2 linked regions of the Homo sapiens genome follow. The protein of the gene in region 2 purifies or fractionates together with the protein of the main gene of each other region. This does not show direct contact. Each region holds a gene or a part of one and is shown on either strand. Other genes may lie near its edges.

Region 1 (7,000 bases), on a different chromosome or scaffold from region 2:
TTAGTCCCAAACAATCTGTGTATTTCCTGATTGCAGAGTCAGGAAATACTTAACTTTTGAAGCAATAATGGTTACTCCTGGGAAGTTTTATAATTGGCTGCATAGTGATAACGTGGACTTTAATAAATACAATGAAAATACCGCCAGCTTATTTAGAAAGAGAGAACTTAGAGCTAATACTGAGGACTACACCAGTTTGGCAAAATCATTGCTCTTCGTGACCACCTCCAGTTTCCAGCTGGCTTCCTGATCAAAGGTATCTTTCCTTAGTGCTTTTTCACTCTCCAGATTTTCTCCTGTGTTTGTTCAGGTCTTTGAACATCAGTGTTTGGTAGTTGTAGAATTTGTTTTATTTTGAAATCAGGTAAAATGTAGTTTATAAAATGTTAATGGGTTTTTTGAAGTATGTTAAGTAACTATGATAACCAATTAATGAGAAAGAACAGCATGACATCAAGGAATCTAGAAGCAATATTTTTTTTTTTTTGTCTAGAGTGAGGAATTGCTTTAATGTCTGAGTCTTGGTACTTGATTCTAAATTGTTTTAGTGAGGTCACTGAAGGTGTAACAACAAAATACTAGCTAAAGGTGGCACTGTGCTTTTTCTAAATATAATGAGACCCTTATTTCTGTTGAATTGATTCCTGTGTGTTAATGGAAATGGATCATTTTAACAACTTGCACACTACTTCAGGTTTAATCATAAAGGTGATTTTTCCCTCTCTTGATTGTACATTATCCTGCCTTTATATTGGCATTAATCCAAAAATTAACTCACAGAATGTGGATCTCGATGAGACCTTATCAACCATCTATCAAGTTCCCCCATTCACTTTGCTCTTGAGGAAGTTATCTGGCAGAGGTGCAACAACTATTCCCAGAGGTCTTGAGCAAAATATTGGGGATAGAATATAAACCTGTCAGTCCCTAGTTTGGTTGAGCCTCTTTCAGTATCATTGTTTTGTGTTAATAGATTAAATGCTGCCACTGAGTAGAAATCTTGCCTTAAATTGGTGTGTGTAAATCGTCATTAGGCTCTGTGGGTTGTAGGCAGATTCTGAGCAGCGGAATTATTTGTAGCTACAATATGTAGCTAGGGTGTGTAGCTTGAGGTGCTCTATAACATTTAGAGTCATTCTGGAAACATACCGTCACTTCCTAGTTTGGGTGAATGGTGAGCAGAGTGAGAAGCCACTGCTTTCTATTTTTGGGTGTGACAGATCTCTTGAGTCACCAACGGGAATTTACTAAACTGTCTCAGTCCTGAAGAATTTATATCAGAGTTCTAGGTAGTTTTTCACTCCTATATATATGACTCTGTTTGCTGTCAGCATTCATTCAAGTTCTTCTGAGCCCAGACCATTTTCCTAGTGGCCACAGGGAGGAATTCTAGTAAGCAACAAAATCCCCCCAACTCAGTCTTTCACTTAAGAGCTTATGGTACGATGGTACAGGAGAAAGAGATATTGAAAAGATACAACACATATAAGAAGGATTCAAATTCGTTCAACAATATTTGTAAATGTATGTATAAATATATGTCAGTTAACACTATGCTACAGGAGAATCCTATGATTCCAAAATATTGTATGTATGTACAAGTACTTGATAGAAATTTTATTTCTCTTGCATTGTTTCTGATGAATCCCTTAAGTAAATGCTTCAATACAAGATTTTCATGATTCTCTGATCACTCATTTCCCCGCTATGGATATTTTACTGTGCTTATATGAGCAGTGTGCCCCTTCTGGTGTGGCCTAAGTGAGTAGTCAGGGGCTGTATAATGCTAGTGTTTATACTCTGTGTTTCACATGAGGATAAGCAAAAAAAAAAAAAACAGAGCTGTTGTTAGATTAGTTTTGCAGAGTCTCTGCAACCCATGTCATTCAAGTTGTGGTTAGTCATAACCTGAGAAAAGGTAGTAAAGGTAACTAGAACCAGTTTTGTGTTGTAATATTAGCATCTTAAATTATTAAAGATTAAATTATGTACTCAGTTTAGAATTCAAGATGATAAACTTTGCTTATATAAATTGGATCACTTACAGAATTACATTTAGGTGTTGAGTTTTTACCTGTAGTCACAGGGAAGGATCCTGGGAGACTACAGAAATTCAGCCACAAATCAGTTTTTCATGTAAAAACTCTTGATATGGCGGTAGAGAAATTCAAAAGACTTGACACAATTAAGGTTGAATTGACTTTATGTGCAATCTCAATTGTAGAATGGAACTCTGAGGTTGTATGTAAATCATTTAAATATTTGTAACAAGATAAAATATCTGCAGTAAAATCAGTGCTACAGGCTATATTTCTGATTCCGTACTCTGTAGAGACACTTTTGGAGGCATACTTGGGTTAAAAATTAGATGAAAAGTATTTAGTGGAAATCAGACAAAAAGATTTTGGGTTAAAAATCAGATTAAAAATATTTAGTAATCAGATGAAAAGTAGAGAGAAAGAAGAGATCATTCTCCTAGGGCTTTGCCCACTAGAATCATTTTATTTTTTGCAGGTTTGCACGGTTGAGTGTCAGCTAGCTCACTCTCCATAGCTTTGGCCCTTGCCAGGTAAGGTAAATCACATACTAAGGCAGTAAGAAAATGATGAAGGGTTGAGGTTGCTAGTCACATGTTAGCACAGATACCTGACTTTGTCCCTGAGACATGGCAAGTGTTCAGGGTGAGTCACTGAAGCTATAGCATGTGGATTTTATCCTTTCATAGGAAATACTTGGTCTAGCAAGCGGAAATTCTTGTTATTTGTAAACTATGAATGTTCTAGCAGTATATCCCAAATAATTACAACAGCCCCTCCTTATCCACAGTTTCAGTCACCTGTGGTCATCTGTGGTCCGAAAATATTAAATGGATGTGGCAATAAACTGTTAACATCTCTGAACTCAGAGACCTTGTGGGAGGAATGTGCCTTGTATGTTGGAGAAATAGCAAGGAGGCCATTGTGGCTGGAGCTGAGTAGAAGGGAATTTAGTAGGAGATAAACTCTAGGAACCAATTGCCAATCAGGAAATCTTTGAATCCACCTACGATCTGGAACTGCACCGCCCCCACCATGCACACTCCCCACCCTGCCCCTTTGAGTTCTCCCACCTTTGTGGATCGAACCAATGTACATCTTACATATACTGATTGATGTCTCATGTCTCCCTAACATGTAGAAAACCAAGCTGTAGCCCAACCACCTTGGGCACATGTTCTCAGAACCTCCTGAGGCTGTGTCATGGTCATGCCCTTAACCTTGGCAAAATAAACTTTTAAACTGATTGAGACCTGTCTCAGATACTTTTTGGTTTATAGAATGTACCACATTTTATTTATCTCTTCACTTGCTGATGGACGTTTGGATTGTTCTCAGTTTTAGAGTTGTGAACCAGAAAATCTGAGACAGGTCTCAGTTAATTTAGAAAGTGTATTTTGCCAAGGTTGAGGATGCGCACCTGTGACACAGCCCCAGGAAGTCCTGATGACATGTCCCCAGGGTGGTTAGGGCACAGCTTGGTTTTATACACTTCAGGCAGACATGAGACATCAGTCAATATATGTAAGAAGTACCTTGGATCCGTCTGGAAAGGCGGGACAATTTGAAGCAAAGGCAGGAAGACTCAAAGCAGGGAGGGAGTTTTTAGGTCATAAACAGGTGCTATGGTTACATTCTTTTGAGTTTCTGATTAACCTTTCCAAAGGAGGCAATCAGATATGCATCTATCTCAGTGAGCAGAGGGGTGACTTTGAATAGATAGGAGGTAGGTTTGCCCTAAGCAATTTTCAGCTTGAGTTTTCCTTAGTGATTTTGGGGGCCTAAGATATTTTCCTTTCACAGGGTATTGGGACAAAAGTGCCTTTGAATATTTGTTTGTAGGCTCTTGTGTGGACATGTTTTCCAGTCTTTTAATTTTTAGGAGTGGAATGCCTAGGTAATGAAGTAGGTCTATATTTAACTCCTAAGAAACTGCCAAACCATCCTCTAGAGTGGTGTGTCATTTTATATGTCTGTGTACAATGTATGAGAGTTCAGTTGCTCCCATGTCCTTGCTGGCAGTCTTCTTTTTATCTTAGCCATTCTAAGAGGTATATAGTGGTATCTTATTGTGGTTTTAATTTGCATTTTCTCTGATAGTTAATGCTGATGAGGGATGTCTAGGTTTTAATCTCCTCATCAAAAAAGGTTATTTTGTCCTCATGGTTGGAACTTTGGTTCCTTTCAGCTGAGGCACAAATAACTTTTAAACACAATCAAAAGACATATTATGACATAATAGGTTGGCAGTGGCTTATATAGTTTCATGGTTTTGTTTCTGGGAGACTCATTTAAAGTGGGAAAATATAATCCTGCTATTCAATTTCAATTTTCATTACATTTTAATTTTATCTTGAAGTCATTTATGTCAAATAATGTAAGTGTATGCTCTGTCTCGTGTAGTGTCTATTACTTTGTATATTATTTAGGATGAAAATACATTCCATGTGGTAATAATTGGGCTAGGTAAATGTAAATTGTCTCAAAACTTTCAACTAGAATCAGGGTTTTAATTTTTTCCCCCAGGTTCCTGATGTTATTAGCAGCATAAGGCAATTATCTAAAGCGGCCATGAAAGAGGATGCCAAACCCAGCAAAGATAATGAGGACGCCTTTTACAACTCTCAGAAGTTCGAAGTCCTGTACTGTGGAAAGGTGACCGTGACCCACAAGAAGGCCCCCTCAAGCCTCATCGATGACTGCATGGAGAAGTTCAGCCTGCACGAACAGCAGCGCCTGAAGATCCAAGGGGAGCAGCGCGGTCCGGACCCAGGAGAGGACCTGGCTGACTTGGAGGTGGTGGTGCCCGGGTCCCCCGGAGACTGCCTGCCGGAGGAGGCTGACGGCACCGACACCCACCTTGGCTTACCTGCCGGGGCCAGCCAGCCTGCCCTGACCAGCTCTCGGGTCTGCTTCCCTGAGCGGATTTTGGAAGATTCTGGCTTTGATGAGCAGCAGGAGTTTCGGTCTCGGTGCAGCAGTGTCACCGGCGTGCAACGGAGAGTTCACGAGGGCAGCCAGAAATCCCAGCCGCGACGGAGACACGCGAGCGCACCCAGTCACGTCCAGCCCTCGGACTCGGAGAAGAACAGGACCATGCTCTTCCAGGTACACCTGATCGGACGCTGTCTGCCCTTGCCCCAAAAGGTGCCAGATGGAAGTAGCTGGGCATCCAGTTCCTCCCAGCTCCACCTCTATATAACGAATAATCTAACTTTTATTTGTTTTCCCCTTCAAAGCAGATAAGGCAGGTGGAGGAAGAGTGCAGAGGAAAGTAGGGAAGGGGGGAGAGGCAGACGTGGAGTGTGGAGTATAAGAATTAAGGGAGTAGGGAAGGAAGAGGAGGAGGAAGCAATTCGTAGAACGTCCTGGACACCTGGTAGAGAGAATAAGAATCTATAACCAGCATTTGCCTTGGGGTGATTCTCAAATAAATGCTTAAAAAAAAATTGTAGGCCCGGCGCGGGGGCTCACGCCTGTAATTCCGGCACCTTGGGAGGCCAAGGTACGCGGATTACTTGAGGTCAGGAGTTCCAGATCAGCCTGGCCAACATGGCAAAACCCCGTCTCTATTAAAAAACAAAAATTAGCCGGATGTGGTGGGGGCGTGCCTGTAATCCCAGCTAATCAGGTGCTGAGGCGGGAGAATTGCTTGAACTGGGGAGTCGGAGGTTGTAGTGAGCTGAGATTGACCCCCTGCACTCGAGCCTGGGCGACAGAGCGAGACTCCATCTCAACAACAACAAAAAAATTGTAGAAAGTAAATCTTTAAAGATATGAATCTGAGAGAGTGCGATTTGGCATGGAGAAACAAGGGACTTTTTTTCTAGAGAAGAAAAAACTCCAGAGACTTGTATTTGTATTTTGAGTCGAGGACACACCAATTTATGCTGTCACACCAAAAGACGTTAAAGAAACATCATTGGCCTAAAAATGTACTGAATTGGATACTAAAATAATTTGATGCAAGCTGTAGTATTGGTATAAAAGATCATTCTTAATTCTAAACATTTTTGAATGTTGTACAGGGTATAGAAGGTGTCAGGTTCCGCTTAAAATAACTTAATTCCTAACAATACTCTGTAGAGAGTCTTTAATTCTCAGCTTGTGAGATTTGAGTTTCCTTGGGGGGAAAGAAAAGAGTGACTGTCTTTTTTAAACCTATTTTAAAGATTTCCTAAGAAGGAGATTCCGGAGTATTTTGGTAAATAGTACCGGTGTGTAATATCAGAAGTTTGCTTTATCGGAAGTTCATGAGGCTTTTTTTCACAAATGATAATATTTTATTATAGAAAAAGCATCCCAAATGCAGGATTTCATAAACACTCGTAGGTGAACAAGTACAGCTTCAAAAGTAAATTCAGAGTAAAGAGGCAACACTTACAAACATTTTGCCTTAAGGAGAAAATGTGATGTTCTCCTGCAGAAGTAATCCCACACAGAACACAAATGTGGCTCCATATCATGAAGGCATCAGATTTGCTTTCTGAGCTCAGTATGCCCATTTCAACAATTGAAAATGATGGCAAGAAGTAGCATTGAATATATTACTACTTGATTAAAAAAAAACACACCCCTGATTAAAAAAAAAAAATTAAGAGACAGGGTCTCGCTCTGTCATCCAGGCTGGAGTGCAGCAGTGTGATCACAGCTCACTACAGCCTTGACCCCTGGAAGTTCATATTTTTTCTTTTTTGTTGGTGGTGGTTTTGTTTTTAATGAACTCAAGGTATGTCATTAAAGCCTCTCTAGTCTTTGGTGATGTATTAACTGAATTTCCCCTTTTCTTGGGGTTATCAGATTTGTTCTTTTTTTAGTTAGTCACAGTCCTTGTTGTTAATTTTTCTGAATGGGTTATTTTCAAAGATTTTAATTCATTAGCCCAATTACAGATACATCCTTTTGCTGACCATTTAGAAGAAAGTATGATTATAACTTATTTTTTAAAATTACTATTTTTAGAA
Region 2 (9,900 bases):
GTAGCTACTGGGGAAGCTGAGATGGGAGGATTGCTTGAGCCTGGGAGGCCGAGGCTGCATGAGCCAAGATTGTGCCACTCCACTCCAGCCTGGGCAACAGAGCAAGACTCTGTCTCAAAAAAAACAACAACAATAATAATAGAGAAAAAGAAAAAAAGAAGGAAGACCAACACACGGATTGCAGGCAGATCAGGACGAGAACTCAATGTCTGATAGGTGGATGGATGTGGAGAGTGGGACAACCAAACCTCAAGGCCACATTTTCCAGGCTCAATGACCACATGGACCTCAGTGTCCTCACTGCAGATGCTTAACACATGCCATTTCCTTTGCCCCTTTCTCTTCCATTAGCAGCTCTGAACAAGAGAGGCCTGGCCTGGCCCCTAAAAGATCTTCAGAGGTCTTTTGGAATCTAGATAAATAACACTAGTTGAGCTTTTTCTATGTGCAACTTGCAAGGTGCTTTATAGACAATGTTTTCTTATACATGGCTCAGAGCAGTCCCTTGAGAGTGCTCTTGTTATCTGTACCCTAGATGAGGAATCTGGAGCTCAGCAAGGTTAATAACTTCCCAGAGTCACAGGGTTTACCTATGGCAGGATCTTGGTTAGAGCAGGGATCAGTCTCACTCTGAAGCAATCACTCTTGAACCACACCGCAGCCTCCCCTGACCCGTGAGTATCCCAGAATAGTGTCAAGTCTCCCCTACCTTTCCAAGCCATTGCTCTAGGACTGACCAGCTGCAACACACCTTTGCTGGAAGCTTCAGTGAGGGCCTCTGCCCCAGGCCAGTCCCTTCCTGTGCCCTGTACCTACCGGCACTGAAGACTGCCATCTAGTGGCCATTGCCTTCCTTTTTCTTTTGCTGTTAAAGGAAAACGGAGTTCCCACATAAAAGACAGGCCTGCATATTTATAGTATCACACCCTGTAAACAGGAAACTTCTCAGTGTTAGAGAAGGAGCCCAGCAACATAAACAGCATATTGCCAATGAGTTCCGCCACCCATTCAACAAACACTTAAATACACACACACACACACACACACACACACACACACACACACATTCTATTGGAATGTAGGCTCCCAGAGAGAGGAATTTCTTTTGTCTGTATTGCTAATGAACCTGGAGAGCTTAGAACAGTGGCATTTGCATAGCAGATATGCAACAAATATTTATTGAGTGTGGAATGAATGAACGCCTGACATTTACTGTATCTTTACTATATACCAGGGACTTGACATATACATTTTCTCATTTAATCCTAACGATAACTCGAGAGATAGAGACCATTAGCATGTCCAGTCCTCATATGTGGAGACTGAGGCACAGAGAGGGTAGGAAGCTTGCCAGGTTTAGGGAGAACTAGCTTTGACCCAGGTTTTCTGACATTAGAGACCATGTGTTCCCTCCTTTCAAGGGAGCCACTGGCCAATTCCCTCCCATGTTCTGCCTTTATTGAGTGGAAGGCTCCCTTCCCAAAGTGTTGAGACAGAGGCCATCAATGGAGGGAATGTCACTAGCTAACTCTGTGGCTGTGTGACTTCCAGTGTCCCTGAACCTCAGGTTCCTCATTGGGTAAAGGAGGAGACTGAGTTAGGACCCCTGCCTTCCCTTCCAACGTCATCATTCTGCTGTTCCTGTGACTCCCAGGGAGCAGATGTGAGTAGAAGAGAGAGGACCACTTGTTGCTAGGCAACCAGCACCCACCTCACCCATGTTGCCATGGTGATGATGAAAGTTGGGCTGATGGGATTACCAGCTCCTGCTAATTGCATATGAGTGCTCAGGTTTCTGTCTCTTTCTTGCCTGCTTGCTCGCTCTGACTTTCTCATTCTTCTAGGAACTGTAGAGCGATTTCCCCCTCTCCTCCATCTGCAGCCTCCCTGAGGCAGCCCTAGTGCAATGGAAAGCAACTGGGAATGGAGCCTGGCTGTGTGTCTGAATAGCTGTGTGACCTTGGGCAGGTTACCCAGCTTCTCTGGGCCTTTCTTTTCTCATTTGGAAAATGAAGGTGTTGGAAAAGTGATCCCTGTCTAAGGTTCTTCCCGGCTCTCAAATCCTTTGATGCCTAGGGAGCTTGTCAGGGGAGCAGACCACACTGTTACTAGGCAACCAGCAGGCACCCTGCCCAAGTTGCCTTGGTGACTGGATGCTGGAGGGGAGGGGAGTAGCTGCTGCAGCTAATTGCTTAATTATTTATGAGTGCCTCAAGTCCTTCTTGTTGTTTTTGTTGCTAGGGGCTGTGGGGTCACCTTCTCTTCCTCTCTTCTGCCACCCCAAGTCGTCTGTGTTGCGTGTCATGCAGTGGGACAGCACGTTGGTCCGGACCTCAAGCTACCCACGTTCTAGTCCCGCCTCTGTCATTTCCTAGAGCTGTGGCCTCGGGTAAGTCACCTCACCTCTCTGGGCCTCAGTTTCCTCATTTGTAAAGTGATGGGTTTGCTTAGATGATCGCTGAATCCCCTTTCTACCTTGAAATTCTAGTTCCTGCCATCCAGTTCCCAGATGAGGGAAATTTCCCCAATTTATTATCTTCTAAGAATGATTCTGAAGAGCAATAAAAATAATTAAGTCTCTTACATATTTCAAACAGGAAGGGAATGAAAGTTGTGACCATTGTTCCCTCCTTAGCCATTTTGTATAATCTCTTTTATTAATCTTAAGGTCATTTAAATTTTATCTATTCATATATACCACCTACTTCCAAAATAAATTTGAGGGGTTCAGTGTAAGGTGCATATATGCTATTAGGTCTTTAAAATAGAAATAGGAATAAATATAAAAATAGTGATGCTTCTTCATTGGCTAATATTGGTGCTGTGATTGAGCACCAAATGTAATTATGAGCAGCCTGGAAGCCAAAGCAAAAAGAGAGAAAGGTATATAATTGCTATTCAGTAAAGAAAAACTGCCAGACTGTTCCTAGTTCTAAATTCTGGAGGGAATTTTTTCATGTGGTACACAATCCTTTTACAGAAACTGCAGATAAAAATTCTTGACTAGCCCTTTTTTGCTGAGGATATTGTTAAAGGACATAAGGAAGGAGCTAAACTTGACAGTTTGACTAGCTTTAATCATTAGAAAGCAAAACTTCCTTTCTACCCATGCCTTGGAATTTTATACAGATATGTGTCACTTCGTAAATATAAATTTTCAGAATCAACCATTATTTATATATCAGCTATATATAAATTCATGTAACCACTTTGCAAAGCAATTTGGCAATATGTATCAAATTTTTAAATGCAGCCAACAATTCTTCTCCAAACTTATTCTGAGATTAGCTTGTGTAGATGAAGAAAGCCATAAATATAAAAATACTTATGGTAGCATTATTTATATAAGAAAATGTCTAGAAACCACATAAATGTTGGAGGCTAGTGAATTAAATTATATTACCTCTTTACAATGAATTACTTTGCAGCCCTTAAGATAAAGTAGATCTATATGTTTTGATATGGAAAAATCTTCAAGGATATAATGTTAAGTGAAATAAGAAGGTACAGCATTGGTATTAAATGCTTCCATTTTGGTTATAAAAAAGATATAGATTTATAACTTATGAATCTAGATATATGCTTGCATGTGCATACTTGCATTTTTCTGGAAGGAAACTGTTGCCAGTGGTTTCCTCTGGGAATGAAGATTGATAGTCTTGGGAGGGAGGGAGACCTACTATTCACAGCTTGTTTTTACGTTGTGGACTTGTTAGTGTTCTGTGTAGAGAGGTAGGAGAGTCTGGCAGTTGAAAGTCTAGACTCTGGAGTCTGAATACCTATGTTCAAATCCCAGCTGTCCCACTTACTAGCTCTGTGACCTTGGGGTTATCTTAATCTTATCTCTGTTCCTCATCTGTAAAATGGGTTAATAGTATCTTCCTCATTGGCTTATTGTAAGGATTAAATGAGTTATTACGGGTAAAGTGCTCAGAGCAGTTTAAACAATGCCATATACCACGCTTCTTGGAAAAATGAAAGGAGATATTAAGCAACAAGATAAATGCATCTAACCAAAAGCACCCTCCCCTGTTTTAGTGTTGGACAGATTTTATAAAATCTGTCATTGCTTCCAGCATTGTATGTTGTATAGAAGTTAAGTTTAAAGCAGCGGTCTTGTTTTTATTATTGTCACTTTATGTGACCTTGATTACCTTTTAGGGAGGGCATCTACTCTGGGATTCATGACAGTCTGCTATGATGCTGTTGATGCCCCTGAACTCATCTTGTTTTGTAGCTCTTCCATCCCAGCGAATGCTCAAGGCATGAACAGAACACATGCTAGGCCAGGTAGAAGGTCAATGAGGAGATGGCATCCCACGCCCTTCACTGTTCAAAGCCAGAGAGGAACTATCTAGAAATTCAAGTGTAAAGAGGATGTCCATGCTGGTTGTGACATGTGTGTTCACAGGCCTCATGCCTTTGCTTTTCTTTTGAAAAAGAAAGTGACAGAGACCTGGGGAGATGCTGTGTTAGGAGGGCCCCTCCTACTTTGGGCTCAGGAATCTCACCGCCTAAGGGACTTCCTGGGTGCTCAGAGGTACAGGAAGCAGAGCGCTCTGTGTTCACAGGTGCCCGCTTTCCTCCTCCCGACTCGCCGGTGCTTTAGGGCAGATCTGGATACTTTGGCTGATTTTGGGAAATGTTCTCTGAAGTTAGCCACACGTTAAGCCAGGCTTGAGGCCTTCACTGTGGTCACATGGTAGCTCCAGAGGTTGGGATGGGGGCTCTGGCCCCTTCAAATCAGCGGAGTTAGGAAGTATGCTCTCACCAAGAGGAATGCAAAGCCCACCTGCTCCAACCTCATGCCCCAGTCGGTGGTTCTCTTGTTCGTTCTTCTTTCTCGCCCTTTGTTCTGTACTCGCGGGCACTGGAGTCTCTTTATCCATTTGGCCATCGGTTCCCCTCTCCATTTATCTGTCACACCCAACTGTGCTTCCATCTGCCCTCCATCCCTCCTTCTCTCCTCCAGCCATCTGCCAGCCTTCACTCCATCCTTCTGACTGCTGGTATGTCTGTCCATCCCTCCTTCCCTCGCACCACGTGGGTCTGGGGCTCCATCCCCTGTCCCATCCATCCCTCCATCTGTCCCTAGCCTGCCGCTCCATCCCGCTGCCCTTTTGCATGGCTGCAGAGCCAGCCCGCAGACCGTTCCCCGGTCCCTCTCACCCCCGTGGGCCCTCTAGCCCGTCCCCGGCCGCCACTCCAGGCCAGGCCGTCAGTCTCCCACGCTGGGCCCGCGCCTGAGCGGGATCGGCCCCCCATCCCTCCGTGGGTCTGTCTTTGTTCGGCGGCCCCGGCCCGGCCGTGCCTCCCACGGCCCCTCCGCGCGGCTCCCAGGCCCTGAAGGCGGCGGGCGGCGGGCGGCGGGCGGCGGGCGGCTAGCCCGGGGCGGGGCGGGGCGCGCGGGGCGGGGCGGGGCGGGGGCCGGGGGTGACTCAGCCGCGCTCGCCCCGCGGTCCGCGCGTCCGCCGGCCTTGCAGGCGGGGCGGAGAAAATGGCGCTGCCCCCGGCCGCCGCGCCCCCCGCCGGGGCCCGGGAGCCGCCGGGGTCCCGCGCCGCCGCCGCTGCCGCCGCCCCCGAGCCGCCGCTCGGCCTGCAGCAGCTGTCGGCGCTGCAGCCTGAGCCGGGCGGGGTCCCGCTGCACTCGTCCTGGACCTTCTGGCTCGACAGGTGAGGGGGCGCGGGGCCCGCCGCGCACGGCCCCGACCCGGGTCCTGCCGCCACCGCCGCTTTGTCTCGGCGCGGCCCCTCGCCCCGGCCCCGCTCCGCTGTGGCACAGACCTCGGCCCCTCCGCGCGTCCGCCTGCGCACCCCGGGACTCGCCCCGCCGGGTCGGAAGCCAGCTTCGGGCCGCGCCGGGCGGCTGTTCGGCGTCCTCGCCTCCGGGCCGGGGGAGGACAGCGCAGCCCGAAAAGTTTCGGCAACACTTTCTACCCCTTGTTCCCTTCCGATCGGAACGCGGCGTGCTGGCAGGGCCGTGGGAGAGGGTAGGCGAGCTGGGGGTGGCCGCGTCCCTGCTGCAGGGAGAGGGCTGTCCTGCTTACCCCGCGGGGCGCCTGGGAGCTCAGGACACGACCTCAGCTGTGACAGCGCTCGGAAAAGTTGCCCATCCCTTGGGAGGTGTGCGGTGGTGCAATGATTATTGCACGGCGGGCGCTCCCACCCCGTGTCCGGCCGCTGCTGCCGTGGACTCCTCTTCCAGTTCTTCCTCATCCACTGGGCAGGTATTTCCTGAACACCTACAGTGGAGCCACACACCTGCTATGCGCTGGAGATTCAATAATGAGCAGCAGCTGACCTTGTCAGGAAGGGGGTGAATTATGGCTTTCTCAAGGGACAACCCAGGTGCCATCTTTTCAGAAAGACCCCCTGACTACCGTATCTAAAATAGAAACCTTGCTCCCTCGTTTTGTATTCTCCTGCCCTGCCTTCTTTTTCTTCCTAATGCTTAATGCAGCTGGATTTTATTATATATGAATTTGTTTACTTTCAGTCTGTCTCCCCAGCTCCTCAACACCTCCCCTCAGTTAAGGATAAAAGAGCAGTGGATTTTTGTTTTTGGACATTTTGGACCTAGAACTGTGCCTGGTCCCTAGTAAGAACACCAGAAATTGTTATGAATGAATAGATGGATGAATGCAAAGCCCCTTCTTAGTGTCTGCCCTGCAGTGGGTGCCCAATGATGACACCTCAAGGTTGTCCCAAGAGCATTTGGAAATTTTGATGAAACCGTGTCTATTCTGGCTAAGTGTTAGGAAGAAATGTGTGACAGTGTTCTGAGAAGTTTGCTTGGTACACACAAATCTGGTTTTAAAAGGCTTTGCATAAAATGACTGCAAGATTTTGTTTTAAAAAAGTGATATTCATTTTTTTTTTGGTTAAGACAAGCTCATTTCTTTTTTCCTTTTGGGTTCTTATAGCACCCGTCTATAAGAATTGTCACTTGCTGCCATTTTCTTTGCCGGAGACCCAAAAAAGTTGGGGGTGGGGGAGATGGAGTGAGTTTCGTTCTTTCAAAACATTTTCACTTTCATTATGGGATGCTAAGAGAGCATTATACTGTCATAACAAGCGTGCTTTTGGCAGACCTTAGCAGAATGAAATCGTGTCTGTTTTCATAGGTGTGCTGCAACTGTGCTATTGTTACCTGGTATCTGTTTTCAAGGTGTTAAACCTGGACCTGTGGTCTAAATTGTGAATACTGCTGACTGGTGGAAACAGTATCAAGAGAGTTTCTTTTTAAACAGGTCTAAAATTAGTTTACATGTAGGAACAACACTTTTAAGGACTGGTCTAAAATGTCAATACTACAGATAACACAATCTTTTAAGACTAGTAGCTTAAGATTATAGTAACTTTAATGAAGACAAAAACTATATCTATACTATTGATTTACACATTTTTGTTCTCTAAAGGTCGATCATCAAATGAAATACATTATTGCCACAGTGTCCAGATCTTTAATAGAAATGGCTGTATTAATTTAGAAATTATAATGAGTTCCAATATTGTACATATGAATTCATTTTGCCCGATCAAACAACTCATAATTTTTATTGAACTTTTTCTCCTTCTGTGGGAATCCATTACCTTTATATAGGGTGCCCCTCTCCCCCTTGAGGTTATGAACACATTATGATCTAGAAGTTCATTAGTAACTTTTCTCCCCAGGTAAACAACATTCTAGAGACTGGTGAGGTTCTCAGGAGAGCCCTCCAAGGCAGCCTTACCTGCAGCATAGCCAATGTCTGCCTGGCAAGATGACATCGGTTTTTGAGTTCCATAGCATGCAAAGGCCTCTTGCTACTTAAAACTCCCCTTTGGCATCCTACCTCCCGGCCTGTCCTACTTTCCAGCCTACTGTGTGCTGATGAGCAAGCCATCTAGCTGCCCCAAGCCTCACTTTCATTGTAAAATGGGATAGTCATAGGCTATGTCTCACAGGGCAGTTCTGAGGATTAAATGAGAGACATGATGTACAACACCTAACAGGTGCCAGCTGGTAGAAGGAGCTTCCTAAGCATAAACTACTAACACTGTCATTACCATGCTCCCCAGCTACCAACCCCTCCCCATACCCACACCCCAACAAACAGTCTCTGGAGCAGCTTGTCTGAATTCTGTGTTGGGAAGCCAGAAACCTAAATTCATTCCCCTCACTGGATGAGTTGGAGAACTCCTCTGTAAAGTTATTAGTATTTTTAATAGTCAACTCCAATAAGTCCTTATTTGGTTAAAAAATTAGACTGTATGGTTAAGGATTTCGGCATTTGAGGAAGGTAATTTTAGATTGGGGGTACAGGCTGAAGAGTTTTTCTCCCCTTTTCTGGACATTTAAAACTATCCTGTCTTGATTCTTGGAAGCCACTCTGGGTTATGTGTCTCTAACTGCTTCCTTTTGATCTTATGGTGACCCGCTCGCCTCTGAGTTTTTTCCCACAAGACTCAGGCCTCAGGCCTCTTCTTTGTGCCATTTACACCAGGGATCTCATCCAGTCACAGTGCTTTCAGGTCCACCTGAATTCTGGTGACTCTCAAAACCTTACACTCTTAGATCCAGTGCTCCTTCCCCTTTGTCTCCATGGATGTCCAATGTAATACACAACCAGACTCAACATATACTGAACTACCTCCTCAACTGCCTTCCCAAACTTGTTTCCTTCTATCTGTATCTCAGATAAGAGCAGTTAAGAGCAAGTCTATCCTTCCAGTTGCCCAGCCCAGAAATCTTAGAGTCATCTGTAACCACCTCCCACCCCCGCCCCCCCGAGGAAAAGCCAAAGGGCTTACAGGAACCATAAAGCTTTGCAGCTCTTCCTGCCCCACCCAGGACCCTTTTCTCCCTTGTCACTCTCCCTTCTGCCATGCCCTTCTTTCTGCTCATCGGTCCCCTTGCTCTTTCGCCTTCATCCCAAGCAGGGACCTTAGCCACTGACACCCCCTACTGCTTGGAGTGCTCTCACCTCCATCAGTGCTTGCCCTGCTCTTTCCTGTCCTTCAAGCCTCTGCTCACATGTCACCTTCTCAGACCTTCCATATTAGTCTGTTCTCACACTGCTACGAAGAATTACCCAAGACTGGGTAACTTATAAAGGAAAGAGGTTTGACTCACAGTTCCACGTTGCTGTGGAGGCCTCAGGAAACTTACAATCATGGTAGAAGCCAAAGGAGAAGCAGGCACCTTCTTCACAGGGCAGCAGTACCAAGTGAGTGCAAGCAGGGTAAATGCCAGACACTTATAAAATCATCAGATCTCATGAGACTCACTCACTATTACGAAAACAGCATGGGGGAAGCCACCCCCATGATCCGGTTACCTTCACCTGGTCCTGCCCTTGACATATATGGGGATTATGGAGATCACAATTCAAGATGAGATTTTGGGTGGAGACACAGCCAAACCATCTTATGTTGCCTGACCACTGTTATGAAATGGCGCAAGCATCCTGACACACACACCCCGAGCCCCTGACCCTGTTTTATTTTCTCCATAGCATTACCACCATTGGCTTGTCTTCTCCCACTAGGATGTAAACCTCATGAGGGCAGAGTTCTCGTCCCGGATGCCTTGTCCTTAGCTCCTGGATTGGAGCCTAGCACAAGTCAGTCCGCACTGAATACCCTGAACAGGGTGTTGTTGAATTCTACCCGCAGTGACTTCACCTTCTCCTGTGGTGGCTCCATTACTCTGCTAATCATTTGCAAGTCTCCATCTCCAGCCTTCAGCTCTCTTCGGAGTTCTGGACACATGTCTGAAAGCTAAGGAAATCCACAGGCACTTTAAATGCAGTACTGATTCTTCAGTGACTGAGCTCATTTCTCTCTATTCTCTTTCTTTTCTGCTGACCACGTGTTGGTTAACCATCCTGCCATACTTCCAGTTTTTCAGAATTGGAA

Evidence for each region. Proteins that work in one complex are often made in the same cells at the same time.
Region 1: the proteins of EIF4E3 (region 2) and TBC1D4 purify together in Homo sapiens (affinity purification with mass spectrometry; 3 studies listed by BioGRID and IntAct, with this or other methods). This does not show direct contact.

Annotation. Positions count from the first base shown.
Region 1 is NC_000013.11:75,360,170-75,367,169, reverse strand, and holds part of TBC1D4 (TBC1 domain family member 4), read left to right. Parts: intron 1-4,562; coding exon 4,563-5,144; intron 5,145-7,000.
Region 2 is NC_000003.12:71,720,965-71,730,864, reverse strand, and holds the start of EIF4E3 (eukaryotic translation initiation factor 4E type 3), read left to right. Parts: upstream 1-5,462; 5' UTR 5,463-5,497; coding exon 5,498-5,673; intron 5,674-5,681; exon of another isoform or gene 5,682-5,990; intron 5,991-9,900. UniProt on the Homo sapiens protein: Recognizes and binds the 7-methylguanosine-containing mRNA cap during an early step in the initiation of protein synthesis. May act as an inhibitor of EIF4E1 activity.